Linked DNA regions of Homo sapiens. The protein of the gene in region 2 interacts with the protein of the main gene of each other region in a pairwise test. Each region holds a gene or a part of one and is shown on either strand. Other genes may lie near its edges.

What was found.
Region 1: the proteins of MAGEA4 (region 2) and PUDP interact in binary tests that used the Homo sapiens proteins (3 or more experiments, as listed by UniProt).

Annotation. Positions count from the first base shown.
Region 1 is NC_000023.11:7,144,865-7,152,054, reverse strand, and holds the start of PUDP (pseudouridine-5'-phosphatase), read left to right. Parts: upstream 1-3,901; 5' UTR 3,902-3,941; coding exon 3,942-4,002; exon of another isoform or gene 4,003-4,343; intron 4,344-4,452; exon of another isoform or gene 4,453-4,765; intron 4,766-7,190. UniProt on the Homo sapiens protein: Dephosphorylates pseudouridine 5'-phosphate, a potential intermediate in rRNA degradation. Pseudouridine is then excreted intact in urine.
Region 2 is NC_000023.11:151,922,629-151,925,710, forward strand, and holds the end of MAGEA4 (melanoma-associated antigen 4), read left to right. Parts: exon of another isoform or gene 1-3; intron 4-583; exon of another isoform or gene 584-824; 5' UTR 825-896; intron 897-971; 5' UTR 972-1,036; coding exon 1,037-1,990; 3' UTR 1,991-2,542; downstream 2,543-3,082. UniProt on the Homo sapiens protein: Regulates cell proliferation through the inhibition of cell cycle arrest at the G1 phase. Also negatively regulates p53-mediated apoptosis.

The DNA.
Region 1 (7,190 bases), about 140 Mb from region 2:
CGTGAACCCGAGAGGCGGAGCTTGCAGTGAGCCAAGATCGTGCCACTGTACTCCAGCCTGGGCGAAAGAGTGAGACTCCATCTCAAAAAATAAACGAATAAATAAAATAACGATAATAATAATAATCCTAAGCCCCCTCCCCACAATGAAGTAGCTGGTATACCCCAGGAGGGGGTCAATGGTCTAGACCATTGGATGCCCTGGTTGAAAGGCAGATGCTGAGTTGGTCAGTCTGGGGGTGGCAGCTGGGATTCTGCATTTCTAGTGAGCTCCCAGGGGATGCTGGCACTGCCAGTTCCGACCACATCTGTTATCCAACACTGCAGAGAAGCAAACTGGACCTCTCGCTCAGAGCCAGTTTGCACTCTGATGGTGAAGGGGTTCAAAAACAATGACCCTCCCCACACAAAAATACCAGATATGTCCGAGAGTACAAAGCCAGGAGTGGCGAATTCAGCCATCTATGTCAGGCTCCCTTCCAGAGCTCACTGGGCTTGGAGGAAAGCAGCAGCGGGAAGGGGTGAGAATATTCAGTGCCTCTGAAGCAAGAGACTTCCTAAGTCAGCGTTGCAAAGCCAGCTATCTAGGGGAAGAAGGCAGGTAAGTCTGCAATGAGGAGCTCAAATTCAGGCCCCATCAGATGAAGTCAGAGCTTTCTGGTCTCTCAGCATCATCAAGAAAAGTAGACTGTGTACAGCCACTGAGAAAGATGGTCCCTAGTCCAACCTGTTACCCTCCATCTACGCTGGGCAAGATTTGTACCCCTAGAAAAGTAAAGAGAATAACAGGGCAAAGTGGGCTCACAGAAAACAGATACAGCAGACTGGAAACCAAATACAACAGATAACAAAAGCACAGAGACACAGGAACCAGGACAACAAACTAAGGAAGTTGAAATAAGCTAAGACTCCCTACAGGATGGCATATATATACACACAATAAATGGCATGTTTAAGTTTACATGTTGTGTGAAAGAAGAGCATCTGTTTATTTGTCCCATTGATAATGTGCTTTTGATGCCATCGTACTGTAGTTTACTGGATCATTTCTATTGTGTCTTAAAATTGTCAGGAAAAGTAAGTTATTGTCCCATGGGGAGAACACAACTGTACAAAAGTAAACTGTAATTCATGGAAGGAAATGCATCCCCATCAGCATAGAAACTGCCCATCTTTGGCTGTTGGAGAATTATGAAAAGCTAAAAACTAACTTGTTATATGTGTACAAACCACATTGCTAGAACAAAATTTCATTCTTTTCCAATCTAGCTTGTGACAGAGAAGCATTCACCATTCAGTTTGTTTTTTTTTTTTTAAGCAAAGAGGAGTCTTCCATCTTATGCATAGAAGTGATGTTACTGAAAAGTGTAGAAAATAAGACTGATAAAAACATAATGTGAAGCATGTTTTCACATCTGTGGAGAGCTGAAGTACCTACGATTTCCCAATCTGTCTCTTCCACAATCGCTGTGAGGCTTTGCCATTTCGTCAAAATGGCATTGGGGCCTTTTTTCCTTTGAAAAATACTCTTTTTTGGCCGGGGGCGGTGGCTCACGTCTGTAATTCCAGCACTTTGGGAAGCCGAGGTGGGCAGATCACTAGGTCAGGAGTTCAAGACCAGCCTGGCCAACATGGTAAAACCCCATCTCTACTAAAAAATACAAAAATTAGCTGGGTGTGGTGGCTGGCGCCTGTAATCCCAGCTACTTGGGAGGCTGAGGCAGGAGAATCACTTGAACCCAGGAGGCTGAGGCTGCAGTGAGCAGAGATTGCGCCACCGTGCTCCAGCCTGGGTGACAGAGTGAGACTCTGTCTCATAAAAGAAGAAAGAAAAAAGAAAAATACTCTTTTTTAATTTAATGACTAAACAGAAATGTGAGGTGGTTACAATACCAAAAAAATAACAGTAACTCTGACATGTGTGCATCCATTTGTTTCCAGAGAATGGAAGGAAACTGGGAGGGAGAATTCTACAGACTCCAGGTGGGAAATACTGTCATACTTACTGTAGGTACCACAGCTATGTGTGTGCAATGCATCTATTATGGAATTGTGTTCCCAAAAATATATGTTGGAGTCCTCATCCCCGCTACCTCAGAATGTGACCTTATTTGGAAACAGGATTTTGTCAGAGGTAATCAAATTAAAATGTAGTTATTAGGGTGGTCCTTAGTCCAATAAGAATCGTGTTCTTATAAAAGGAGAAAATTTGGACACAGAGACACACACAGAGGGAAGACGATAGGACAAGATACAGGGAAAGGAAAGCAGGTTCAAGCTGAGGAGAAAGACCTGGAATAGGTCCTTTCCTCACAGCCCTCAGAAGGAATTAAGACTGCTGACATCTTGATCTAGGACTTCTGGCCTCCAGATCTGTGACACAATACACATCTGCTGTTTAGGTTACTTAGTCTGTGGTATATTACTATGGCAGCTGTAGTAAACTAATACAGAAACCACGAACGACTGTATTTGAGGCGCAAGTCCCTACCTAATTTGCTCATAAATTGCCTTCTCTGAAATCCCGTGTCCTCAAAGGGAAATCACGATTGCATTAAATGGGGGAAGCTCTCTTATAGTACCACCTCTAAGAACACATAATTTTATTGACTATATATTATGCACTGGTACTAAGGGCTTGGCCTGCCTCACCTCCTTTATCACCTCCATTTTACCCAGGAGGAAACAGACACAGGTGCACTTTGTCTATCATAGATAATAATTCTTGCTGAATCCAGGCATGCCCCTGTCCACTATGTCTGCACTAAACTAGAAATACACTCTCATGTTTACACCTTTTTTTTTTTGTCTTTTTCCCCTTTTGTGGAGAACAGGGTCTCGCTATATTGCCCAGGCAGTTCTTAAACTTCTGGGCTCAAACTATTCCCCCAACTCCCACTTCTGCCTCCCTAAGTACTGGGATTACAGGTGTGGGCCACTGCGCCCAGCACACCCTCACGTTTTTAAAGTCTTGAAATTCTCCTATTTCCGCTTCTCAAAAGGTCCAATCCTTTTCCTTAAACGTGAATATACCACATAAACGAACACGAAATAGAAACAGGGACAAAAAAGTATTTTTTTGACGATGGCAAACGGGAAAAAAAAAAAAGAAAGCTGTTTAGGTGGCATTTGAAAAGTTAAAAAAGAAAGAAAACTCAGAGCAGCCCAAAAGACAGATGATACCTAAGAAGGCACAACCAGCAAGACATGTTGACTGTTAGTATTATTTCAGCATCCTCCTTGAGCAGCTTGGCTTTGCTCTGGGACAATGCACCAGCCTGGGATGCTCAGAGATGCAGGCACGGAGGTTGTGCAGCCTCTCCGCACACTGCGCATGCGCGGCTGCCGGTTCAAGTCGCGGTCCAGGACCGCAAGGAGGCGGGCAAGCGAAACTGAGAAAAACCCACCCACGGTCCAGGGACTGGGGGCTCGGGCGAACCCACCCAGGGACCTCCTGACCAAGGCCATTTGTCTGCAACCTGATGGCTAGAAGTGATACCACCCTGAGCATCTTCAATCCCCTTTCCCCACTCTACAGCCCCTTGTACTGTCCCTCCTTCCTCATTCACACCCCTGATCCAAACTCAAGCACTGAATTTGTCCCCAGACGAGGGCCTCGGCTCTGCGCGGCCGCTGGCTGAGTAGCTTGGCCCGATTCCGGGTGTGAAGTGAGGAGGAATTGATGCGGGTAAACATACAGCGCCGGCCCGCGCCGCATCCCGGGTCTGCAGCTACAGCTGCGGCGAAAGCCCAAGGTGCGCGTGCGCGGAGCGCCACTAGGCAGCCCAGGACGCGCGGGCTCGGAGCCGGGCGAGGGGCCGCGGAAGGCGCGTGCGCAGAGCGACCCCGGGCGCGCGAGAAGGTCCTCAGTGCGCGTGCGCGGGGCGGGCGGGTGCGCGCGCACTTCCTCCTCGCCCCCACCCAGACCCAGAAGGCGCCACCATGGCGGCGCCCCCGCAGCCCGTCACCCACCTCATCTTTGACATGGACGGACTTCTTCTGGGTGGGTAGTGTGCAGCCGCCGCCTCCAGTAAGGGCGGTCTTGTGTGGGCGTGGGGACGGTCGGCGCGGGGTACGTCACGGCCTGGGGGCCGCGGCGGGGCGGTGTTCATGCAGGGACGCTCGGGCTCCCGCGCGCTCTGCCCCCGGCTGGCCCCGAAGTCGGGCGGCGGCCAGGAGCGCCCGCGGGCCCATGTCCGGGCTGGCGGGCGCGCGTGGCCGCGGCGTCTACGCGGCCCCAGCACCCGCTTCCGGTCGGCGGCCCGCGCGTGGGGCCGGAGCACGTGGGAGCAGTCCCTGGGGTCCACCGGGCGGGCGCGCGGCTCCGCGTCCTCTCCTCAGAGCGAGGCGCGGCGGGACCTCCGCGCTCTCTTTTCGGTTACGCATGCGTGCGACCTTGAGCGGTGCCCAGCCTCAGCTTCCCCGTCTGCAAAGTAGCCTGGAGGATACTTGCCTGCCTGCTCCAAGGTTGCTGCTGTGGGCGCACTTTGATGGTAGCATCCTGCATGGTAGCGGTTCTCTACCTGGCGGTTTTGCAGCCCTGAGGGCATCTGGCAATGGCGATGTCAGGAGACATTTTGGCTGTCACAGCTGGCGAGGAGTGATGGGGTCACTGGCATCTAGTGGAGTCCAGACCAGTGATACTGTTAAACTTCCCGCAGTGCACAGGAGTGCCCTATGCAACCATAAGGAATTATCCCGCGCCGTCAACAGTGTAGAGGCACAGAAGGTCCGTCAAGTGGCCTGGCTGCCTAGGGTGACCAGCACCGGGGACATCACCTGTGGGCTACTTGTAAATGTAGAAGCTGGGGCCCCACCCTACCCCTGCCCAATCAGAATCTGCATTTTAAGCGCGTGAACGTTTGAGAACAGCTGCTCTATCAATCCGAGGCATTAAGAAACCCTTGGCAGTGTACTAAGGTAGTCAGTCTTAGCACATGTGAACTTCACCAGCCAAGAGGAATTCAAGTAGAATTCAAAGAATAAAACCCTGTTTTTAACTCAAGACAGAACTATGCTGAGCTCTACCGAAAGCCTTGACACAGTTAACACTATGACACATAATCACCAGGAGGCTTCATATATCTATAAACATGTCTGCATACTCTTTGTAGACAGCTGACCTGCTTGGTTACGTATATCATTCCTTCATTTCAAAACCCTGCAAGTTAGGAGGAAGTATTTGCATGTCACTAATTAAAAAAAAAAAAAAAAAAAAAACCCTGCAGCTCAGAGAGGTAAAGCTACTTGCCCAAGGTCACACAGCTAATAAGCCAAGCTGAGAAACGATTCTGGATTGATCCAGTTCTAAATATAAATGATGTTGAGCTCATCTTAAATTGTGAATGTGACCTTGTTTCTGCTCATCATATTGCTGGGTAATTCCCTAGCAGTGTTTCCTTTTAAAAAGGCATGCAGAAACCATTCTCTTCATTTTATGAACACAGAGGTGTAAACTGATGAATTCCAAAGGAAAAAAAAAATCCCCGTAGAGGTCACTAATTGGAGCCAACGGTGTATGCAGCTACTAAATTTGAAATGACTCAATTTCAGAAAGCTTGTGGGATACATAGGTATAGTTTGTAGACATGAATTTTCCTACTCCGGTGGTCAAAAAGTTAAATTGTCAAATAAATTTCTTATCCTCTAATAAAGGTCCAGAGAACCTGTTCTGGGAGTCTCATGAATTTTAATACCAAACAAGATGTCTCATTAAAATTAAATTTATTAAACTTCTAAATGAGCTTGGTGCCTAATTCTGATTCTAGATTCACACATAGCCATGCCCTGAAGTGATGAATGTGACTTAAATGGCATTACAAGCATTGACCTCACATTGTTACCCAATCCTCTGATCTAGTCAGATAACCAAGAATTAGTGCTATTTGGAAAAATAAGCCCTGCTTCTTTTTATTCCCCCCCCTCATTTTCTGCCCATTTCCTCCTTTCCTGCCCTACCTCTTCTTTGAGGTGGTAAGGCCTTGCAAAACTTTCTTGGAAATATACCTTTGTTTATCCCATTCTTTCACCAAATGTGTAAATATAAAACACAGCTTTCCAAGATGTGCCACTTTAATTTAATCTACCAGATTATGCCTGCTGTCATTCTTTAGCACCTCACTTCAGTGTATCTGTTGTTTGCATAACAATATACTATCAATTTATAATGAGTTATTTTACAATAGGTCTGTTTTTCGGGAATTTTGAATGCATTTTTCTAGGAAGTTCTGTTTGTCTATGTAGCCCCAATACTTGCATACTTGGGGAAGTAAAATTGAAAACGAATAGTTTCATGGAGGATTGTTAACATTAGAGGAGAAGATTGTTTAATCAGAGGAGAATGAGGAAGTAAATGGAGATTTTAGAGGAAATGTTGACCAGGAAGAAAGCCAGGACACTTTCCCATGCTTTTGACATGCACGATGCTGTTAGTTGTCCTTTAAAAAAAAAAAAAAATACACTTCGGTTTCTGTTTCTCATGACCAAGGTAAGAGTCAGTTATGATTTAGGTAATATTAATAATTTTGGCTCTCAAATGCCATTCAGAGAAAGAGAGTAGGGGAGTGGGATTAGTTAAAAACTGGGATGATTTTGAAATAAGAAGATGACAATTATTAAACAGTATCTCAGCAGCTGGACAGGGAAGATTATTCTGTTTGTAAATAACTGAAATTAGGAACACAAAAGATGGTCCCAATTTCTTTAAAAGAGAAGACAGTTTGTTGTCCAGAGCAGTTCTGTCTCATAGAATTGAGCCAGGTAAAAATTTTGGGGAGCAATTTTTAATAAGTAAAAAGATACAGATGACATTGATTTGGATGATGTATGTTATGTAACCTAATGTATCAAAAATATTATTTAATACAAAGTCAGTATAAGAAAATCTTTGAAGTGTTTGACATTAATTTTGATACTAGGTCCTCAAAATCTGTGTGTGTTTTATACATACAACACATCTTAGTTTGAACTAGCCTCATTTCAGGCACTCTGTAGCCTCATTTGGTGGGTGGCTACTGGCTTGGACAGCATGGGTCTAGGTCTTTGTGGAGCAACCCAAGATGTCTGTTGATAATGGCTATGCTGGGAGGGTCAGGCAGAGGGTGGGTGTTAAGAATATTCAGAATTAGGAGTTTTGGTGTATGTAAAATGTGGTATGTGTAAAATGTGTTTTCTTGGAGTCTAATACAGAAT
Region 2 (3,082 bases):
CTGGTGAGGAATGTGAGGGAGGATTGAGGGTACCACAGGGCCAGAACGCAGATGATGACCCCACAGAAATCAGCCCTGCTCCTGTTGTCACCCCAGAGAGCATGGGCTTGGCTTTCTGCTGAGGTCCCTCTCTTATCCTGGGATCACTGGTGTCACGGAGTGGGAGGCCTTGGTCTGAGGGGGCTGCACCCAGGTCAGTAGAGGGAGGGTCCCAGGCTCTGCCAGGAGTTGAGGTGAGGACCAAGCAGGCTCCGCATCCAGGACACATGGGTTCCAATGAATTTCGACATCTTTTGCTGTCGTTCTTCGGAAGACCTAGGCACAGGTGGCCAGATGTGGGGTTTCTTAGGTCCTGTTCCCTCTCAGGCATGTGAGCTCTTGATCTGAGTTTCTCAGGCCAGCAAAAGAGTGGGATCCAGGCCCTGCCTGGAGAAATGTGAGGGCCCTGAGTGAACACAGTGGGGATCATCCACTCCATGAGAGTGGGGACCTCACAGAGTCCAGCCTACCCTCTTGATGGCACTGAGGGACCGGGGCTGTGCTTACAGTCTGCACCCTAAGGGCCCATGGATTCCTCTCCTAGGAGCTCCAGGAACAAGGCAGTGAGGCCTTGGTCTGAGACAGTGTCCTCAGGTTACAGAGCAGAGGATGCACAGGCTGTGCCAGCAGTGAATGTTTGCCCTGAATGCACACCAAGGGCCCCACCTGCCACAAGACACATAGGACTCCAAAGAGTCTGGCCTCACCTCCCTACCATCAATCCTGCAGAATCGACCTCTGCTGGCCGGCTATACCCTGAGGTGCTCTCTCACTTCCTCCTTCAGGTTCTGAGCAGACAGGCCAACCGGAGGACAGGATTCCCTGGAGGCCACAGAGGAGCACCAAGGAGAAGATCTGTAAGTAAGCCTTTGTTAGAGCCTCTAAGATTTGGTTCTCAGCTGAGGTCTCTCACATGCTCCCTCTCTCCGTAGGCCTGTGGGTCCCCATTGCCCAGCTTTTGCCTGCACTCTTGCCTGCTGCCCTGACCAGAGTCATCATGTCTTCTGAGCAGAAGAGTCAGCACTGCAAGCCTGAGGAAGGCGTTGAGGCCCAAGAAGAGGCCCTGGGCCTGGTGGGTGCACAGGCTCCTACTACTGAGGAGCAGGAGGCTGCTGTCTCCTCCTCCTCTCCTCTGGTCCCTGGCACCCTGGAGGAAGTGCCTGCTGCTGAGTCAGCAGGTCCTCCCCAGAGTCCTCAGGGAGCCTCTGCCTTACCCACTACCATCAGCTTCACTTGCTGGAGGCAACCCAATGAGGGTTCCAGCAGCCAAGAAGAGGAGGGGCCAAGCACCTCGCCTGACGCAGAGTCCTTGTTCCGAGAAGCACTCAGTAACAAGGTGGATGAGTTGGCTCATTTTCTGCTCCGCAAGTATCGAGCCAAGGAGCTGGTCACAAAGGCAGAAATGCTGGAGAGAGTCATCAAAAATTACAAGCGCTGCTTTCCTGTGATCTTCGGCAAAGCCTCCGAGTCCCTGAAGATGATCTTTGGCATTGACGTGAAGGAAGTGGACCCCGCCAGCAACACCTACACCCTTGTCACCTGCCTGGGCCTTTCCTATGATGGCCTGCTGGGTAATAATCAGATCTTTCCCAAGACAGGCCTTCTGATAATCGTCCTGGGCACAATTGCAATGGAGGGCGACAGCGCCTCTGAGGAGGAAATCTGGGAGGAGCTGGGTGTGATGGGGGTGTATGATGGGAGGGAGCACACTGTCTATGGGGAGCCCAGGAAACTGCTCACCCAAGATTGGGTGCAGGAAAACTACCTGGAGTACCGGCAGGTACCCGGCAGTAATCCTGCGCGCTATGAGTTCCTGTGGGGTCCAAGGGCTCTGGCTGAAACCAGCTATGTGAAAGTCCTGGAGCATGTGGTCAGGGTCAATGCAAGAGTTCGCATTGCCTACCCATCCCTGCGTGAAGCAGCTTTGTTAGAGGAGGAAGAGGGAGTCTGAGCATGAGTTGCAGCCAGGGCTGTGGGGAAGGGGCAGGGCTGGGCCAGTGCATCTAACAGCCCTGTGCAGCAGCTTCCCTTGCCTCGTGTAACATGAGGCCCATTCTTCACTCTGTTTGAAGAAAATAGTCAGTGTTCTTAGTAGTGGGTTTCTATTTTGTTGGATGACTTGGAGATTTATCTCTGTTTCCTTTTACAATTGTTGAAATGTTCCTTTTAATGGATGGTTGAATTAACTTCAGCATCCAAGTTTATGAATCGTAGTTAACGTATATTGCTGTTAATATAGTTTAGGAGTAAGAGTCTTGTTTTTTATTCAGATTGGGAAATCCGTTCTATTTTGTGAATTTGGGACATAATAACAGCAGTGGAGTAAGTATTTAGAAGTGTGAATTCACCGTGAAATAGGTGAGATAAATTAAAAGATACTTAATTCCCGCCTTATGCCTCAGTCTATTCTGTAAAATTTAAAAAATATATATGCATACCTGGATTTCCTTGGCTTCGTGAATGTAAGAGAAATTAAATCTGAATAAATAATTCTTTCTGTTAACTGGCTCATTTCTTCTCTATGCACTGAGCATCTGCTCTGTGGAAGGCCCAGGATTAGTAGTGGAGATACTAGGGTAAGCCAGACACACACCTACCGATAGGGTATTAAGAGTCTAGGAGCGCGGTCATATAATTAAGGTGACAAGATGTCCTCTAAGATGTAGGGGAAAAGTAACGAGTGTGGGTATGGGGCTCCAGGTGAGAGTGGTCGGGTGTAAATTCCCTGTGTGGGGCCTTTTGGGCTTTGGGAAACTCCATTTTCTTCTGAGGGATCTGATTCTAATGAAGCTTGGTGGGTCCAGGGCCAGATTCTCAGAGGGAGAGGGAAAAGCCCAGATTGGAAAAGTGCTCTGAGCGGTTCCTTTGTGACAATGGATGAACAGAGAGGAGCCTCTACCTGGGGCAGGAATGGAAGGTGTCTTGCGCTTTTGTCCCAGTGTTGTTGAACACAGTGCATGAGCTAGGTGATGGACACCCGTTATTTGCAAGGGTTTCCTGTGAGATAAGTGTATGTCTCCCCCAAAAGGGAGACCCAGAAGCC